2 separate regions of the Homo sapiens genome follow, and region 2 is linked to region 1. Evidence: fine-mapped expression QTL. A gene starts in region 1. The other region holds a variant in brackets. All regions are shown on one strand. Distances are between the middles of the regions.

Region 1 (2,909 bases):
TGTGGAGGTGAGCCGCCATACCACAGAAAGCCTGGGCCTACTGTCATGGTCTCAACTGGCCGTCATCATCTGTGACTTTGCCTCTTAAGATTCTTTGTATTATGAGGGGTGGGTGTCTTCCCAAAGGCCTCTAATTCTCTCACCGCCACTGCTGTAATGACCTCCTAAAGGTCTCTAATACTCAGAATAGCAGAATAGGGTGACATGTGGGTGATTGCTCTGTGATGTCTTTTACACCATTGATCACCAGGATCCCTGTGGCACATCTGGCTAGTCAAGTGGGTGGCCCCTTACCTCCCAGAGCCATATCACAGAAAGCCCTTCCCAAGGAGGAGCAGCCCAGAGCTCTCTGTCAACCAGCATTCTGAAGCGCCACATGTGGTGATGGTTTAGCAGTGTCTGCTAGGAGCATGGGAGGGGAGGGTGGGGTTAGGTGTGCCATGCATTTGCCCTCCTTCCTAAAAGAACCTCCTTCCCCTCCCCAAAGCCCCATATACTTTCTAGGTCTTAACCCAGTGGCATATACATGATAGATGTTCAAAACATGTGCTGTTTGATCGATAGTGTATTCAGCAGTCATTTCGCAGCCTAGTGACTGCGAGCTCGACTCAGAGAGGGAGTGACAGTGACGGGGCAGAAGCACGTGGCTGCCAGATGGGCGATGGGAAATGTTCCGCACACAGAAGTCAACCATCCTGCCAATTTGGGAACACGAAGTCACTCGTTCGATGCCTGTCAAGTCCCTATGCTGTGCCTGCCACGGCCCTTGCTGCTACGGTACCACGAGCGTCCCCAGGAAGACACCTTGCTTGTCTCTAATTCCATGAACTTTTTGCAAGAAAATCTTGCTTGCCTTCCCCAGGGGTCAGGTCTTCAGAGGGGAGACTCCTGCCCTGGTGTGCCCGGCTCCTGCCCATCCAGCAGAGCAGGAAAAGGTGACTCGGGTTCCATTTGACAAACGTCTCTTCTGAAAGCTGCCCTTAGCAGGCAGGAGAAAAGCCCCCATTTACTGGGGCCTTGTCAGAGTTTCTAGAGCTTAAATTCTCTTCTTCAGAAAGGAAAAATATCTGCGGCCCCACATCCGCAGATGCATAAACGTGGGCGTGATTTATGAGTGCACGTGGTATCCAGCGCTTTCCCCCAGCTACTGTGAAATCGTTCCTCTTCTCTGACTGAGACGTCAACAGTATGGTCACTGTATATGTTTTCCCACTTTTTCCAGAGCCAAGAACCAGGAAAAAAAAATGAAAAATGAAAGTGTACAGGAAGTCAAGGTCAGGCCATACCCACCACAGTTCGGGCAGCCATAGAGGAGAGCTTTCTTAACGGTCCGCTGGGACCCAAGTGGGCCTCCCCTGGGACTGCGTGCTCCCCTACAGAACCTGATGGCTGGAAACACTCACACTACTGCCTGTCCCGGCATCTCTCCCTCCGCCGCAGGGGCTGATGCTGCCACAGGACACAGAGCAGCAGGCCCCAGAGGCTTCTCTGCACCTCTGCTGCCTTTCTGAGTAATCAGAGGAGGCCACACCCACTCCAGGACACCCACACGGGCCTTCTGGGCGATGACGCTCCTGGCCCAGGAGTGGGGGGCTGCCTCACACCTGCTGCTGTGGGGCAGAGTCTCTCCTGGGTCGGGGCCTCGCTGGCGGATCTGCTCCATGTCGTGTGATGTGCTGCAGCCCCGCGTCACCGAGAGCCTCTTATGGGCCACCAAGTCCACACAGCCACTGGCCATGGGGCACCCTGCAGGGCCTCTGGACACGGAGACCTGTGGTTCTCAGCCAGTGGTGATTTTGTGTCCAGGGAACACCTGGCCAAGTCTGGGTTCAATTTTGTTTGTCACAGTTTAAGGTTGGGGTGTCACTAGACATCCTACAGTGCACAGGACGGCCCCACAGCAGACCAGCCCGACTGTCAGCAGCACCGAGCCGGGAAAGCCTGGTCTGGAGCCGTTTCTCTCTAGGGTCCCTGCTAGGGAACCCCTCACTGCCATGGAGAACCCCTCTCCTCCTGTCTCTCAGGACTCTCCGAGGGTCAAGGATGGATGCCTCCCCATCGAGGGCCAAACAAACTGACAAATCGAGTGGGCAAACGGCTTACTCAAAGGCCAGGAGCAGCTACCCGATGACTGCTCCCTCGACCTCTCTCTTCTCACTTTCTTCCCTATTCCATCCTTTGATGGGTGGCCTGTTACACGTTTGGAAATAAAAACAAGTGGGAAAGAGTGCCATAAACATTCCTGGGAAAAAAGCAGGGCCGACTGGAGGTCCATTGTTGCTGAGAGACAAAAAAGATCAAAGGGGAAGAAAGAAAGGATGGAGGGAGGGGAAGAAGAGAGGGAGAAAAGGAAGGAAAGAAGGAGGAAAAGGAAGAAGTAAAGGAGGCAGGAAGGGAAAGAAGGAAGGAAGAGAGAGAGAGAGGGAGGGAGGGAGGGGGGAAGGAAGGAAGGGAAGGAAGGAAAGGAGGGAGGGAAGGAAGGGAAGCAGAGAGGGAGGGGAGGGAGGAAGGAAGGAGGGAGGGAGGGAAAAAGAAATGAAGGAAGGAAGGAGGGAGGGAGAGAGGGAGCACAGAGAGAGGGAGGGAAGAAGGAAGGAAGGAAGAAAAAGAGAGAGAGAAAGGGAGGGAGGGGGAAGGGAGGGAGGAGGAGAGGGAGGGAGGGAGGAAGGAAGGGAGGGAGGGAGGGAGCACAGAGAGAGGGAGGGAAGAAGGAAGGAAGGAAGGAAGGGGGGGAGGAAGGAAGGAAGGGAGGGAGGGAAGGAAGCAGGGTTCTCACTGGTAAATCTCCCTGGCTGCCCTCTGTGCGTGTGTTACAGAGAGATGTTCTGTAGAAATTTCAGGAGAAGGGCTTTGGAATCCTTTCATCGCAAGTGGTATCAAGCACAGGTGACCATCAGGATGTACGGATG
Region 2 (2,909 bases), 88 kb before region 1:
TGGGTGACAGAGTGAGACTCAGTTAAAAAAAAAAAAAAAGAAAGAAAGAAAGAAAGAAAAAGAGGCCCAGAGACTAAAGGATCATGCCCAAGGCCGCCCAGCATGCAAGTGTCCGGGCCTTTTAGATGCTAACAACATGACCCCAGAATGGGCACTTGTGCATGAGTCAGTTTCTCAGTCAGCTTTTTGTCGTCAGCCCCACATCCTGCAGACCTTGGCTGAATTTGTAGCCCCTCCGGTCTCAGTTTTCCCAGCTCGGTCATCAGAGGCTGGAGTTGAATGATCTTTGTGGCTTTTTTGCGGACAATGGCGTTCTCAATTTTGTACTCTTTGGCACAGAGTGGTGTAATGTGGAGAGGGGAGCATCAGTCTCTCTCTTAATGCTTATTTAATTATATTTAATTAGGAATCTCGTTGCAATTGGTCTCCTGGGGCCATCTGCTGTGGAGATTTTTGAAGAATCCAAATTTTATTTCTTGCCATCGATCCATGTGGTTAATGGGCCTGAGGAGGAATGATGTCATCTGTCCTTCTAACTTAGCACAAGAGGCAGGAGGAGAAATTGAGCAAAATCAGGCTGAGCGCCCGAGAAGGCCACCCTTTGGAGAGCCAGGGCGGGCCTGGCTCATTCCTTCAGGTTCTCAACTGTAGTGCCCACGGTGTGCCCCAGCTTGCTCTGCCCTGTGCCAGGATTTTGGGGACAGCTGGGTTCTGGCATCATCTGTGCCCTTGTTAACATGGTACCCTAAAATTGATGCTTGCCCTGATGGTAAAATGGTGGTCTGCATGTGATCGGCACCAATCTGTGACGTCCAGGGTTCTTGAGTCAGCCACGTATTCCCTGGGTTGCCTTCAAGATGACCTGAGTGGACTCACTGCCTATTCTTTTCCCTCTAGGTGGAATAGGATTCTTACAGGAGTAGGGTGATAAGAGAAGGGGGCTCTCCTTCATTGCTGCCATCGGGCTCCTTGGTGGAAAACTGGGGCAGGATTCAAAGCAAGGCTGACATGACCTGTACTTCCCCAGAAAGGAGCCGCTGGAGGCCTGGCTAGGGCCAGCTCTCCAGCCCCGGCAGCTGCCCCCCACCCACCCCCACCGGGCATTTAATCAGTGTAACTGATTAGTTGAAACACACCACAGGCTGGGAGCCTGCGACCCTGGCTGACGTCCGGGGCTGTTGTTTATGGCTGGGTGATTTGAGGCAAGCCTCCCGACCCCGCTGAGCCTCGGATCCCTCAGTTACAAAATGAGACTTATCATATCTGCCCCCCTCCCTCCCCAAGTTGTTGAGAGGCTCCAACAATGTAGAGAGGCTGATATGAAATGTGGGTAAACAGGAGAGTGGTATTTAAATGTACGCTCTTACCATAATTGCCTTGTATTGTGTGTGTATCTTATCTCCCCAATTAGATGCGAGATCCTTGGTGACAGCCACCATGTCTCCCCCCTTTTGATATTCCCCACGCAGCCGGGATGATGCTGAACATATGGCTGCTGCTCAATAAATATGTTCTGAATTGTACTGAATTTCATTTTGGTTCCAAATCACCCTAAAAACTTGATCAGGTGCAGCCCAAAGGAGCAGGCTGGATGACGGAGGCTCCCCAGCCTGGCTCTGTGGCCGTTATGGGAAAATATCTGTGGAATGAATGAATAGATGA[A/G]TGAATGAATGAATGCCTCGTGGTGTTTGCTTTACTCTTCCTGCTCCCAGCTTTGACACTGGCTGTGAAATCTGCCTCCTGTGCTCAAAATGACTTCTCCCTCTCCTCCTTCGGGATACGCTTTCTGCATCCTGCCTCGCTGTAGCTCAGATTTCTATTAAGTAGTCAAACATAATATAAAATTGCCAACAAAAAGATCATTCCTGGATTAATCTCCCCCTTTACATAGGGAAAGACATAAAAGAGAGCATAAGATAAGAAAAGGAAATGAAATTAATCTTATACTTTCTATGGCTGCCTGTTAATTTCAAGCTTTCCTGCATCCAGGTGCCTGTGTTCCTGCTCGGTTTCTGGATTGCTTGGTACTTAAATGAAACATCTTATTAATCATTTCCCGGGAATGCTGTGCAGGCAAAAGGAAAACAAAGGCATTCAGGAGCCACAGTAAGTTTATTTTTATAGTAATGCATACCTTATCATCAAGCATGGCCAAGACATCAAAATGCTAAGCCACATTTGTATACGATCTCACACTGCTATTGATAAATCACGTTAACAGTAAGCTGCTGGATCAATTCTGCCCTGACACCAACCTCTCCACGAAATAGAGATTCGAGAATAAATGTGAAGGTAACCAGGGAATAAAACTGTTTGAGAAGTTTCACAAAAGAAGCTGAACTCTGCTAATCAGAAAGTAGATCCATCTTTAATTCCGAAATGACCGCACAGCAATTCAGCAGTCCAGAGGACAGGCAGAGTTTCTCAGCCCCGGGGTGGAATGGATGGCTTCCTATCTCTGTCCTGCCAAGGCTGCGTTCTCACATCTTCCAAAATGTCCATTAACCCCAGCTGGCCCCTCACCCCACCAAGATGATGTAAATATAATGATTAACCAATCCACACTAGCATTAAGATTTCTTGAAACTCCTCTTCACTGAAAAATGCATTAGCTCCTGGCAGTACTGTCCAGAAATTAATTCACAGACAACCGAGCATCATTACCCATGGTCTGCCCTGGCTAACTGCTCTCTCTGTTAGTGAATTTGGGAATGGAAATGAGCTATTTCCATCCACTTTATCATCCAGAGACCTTAGTACATAGTGTATCTCTGGTAAGTGCTGTTATTGTAACCTGTTTCTAGAATTGCTATTACCAGTAATTCTGCAGAAACAGGGTCCCACCCAAAGCCATCAGCACAGTGCCTTTAAATCTGAAAATCAGCCTTTAATCTCTACTTTGATGTTGT

Which allele goes with the higher level. Positions count from the first base shown, and alleles are read on the strand shown. Sizes are in standard deviations (SD) of each study's normalised expression.
In carriers of allele G in region 2, the expression in cartilage of the gene that starts at base 1,261 in region 1 tends to be lower than with A alone (large effect, 1.2 SD a copy in Steinberg 2020).

The links. PIP is the estimated chance that this variant, and not a neighbour inherited with it, causes the effect.
Region 2: its variant is fine-mapped to the expression of LINC01711 in cartilage (Steinberg 2020, PIP 0.95).

Annotation. Positions count from the first base shown.
Region 1 is chr20:58,633,512-58,636,420 of GRCh38, forward strand. LINC01711 (long intergenic non-protein coding RNA 1711) reads left to right here and starts at 1,261. Exons shown (of 1, transcript NR_125359.1): 1 at 1,261-2,227. RefSeq lists enhancers at 1,265-1,394, 1,415-1,484.
Region 2 is chr20:58,545,823-58,548,731 of GRCh38, forward strand. APCDD1L-DT (APCDD1L divergent transcript) reads left to right here. Exons shown (of 7, transcript NR_034147.1): 6 at 1,990-2,106. Among named protein-coding and RNA genes, the nearest start is that of APCDD1L, 32 kb to the left of the region's middle. RefSeq lists an enhancer at 239-740. The variant A/G (reference allele first, on the strand shown) is at 1,663.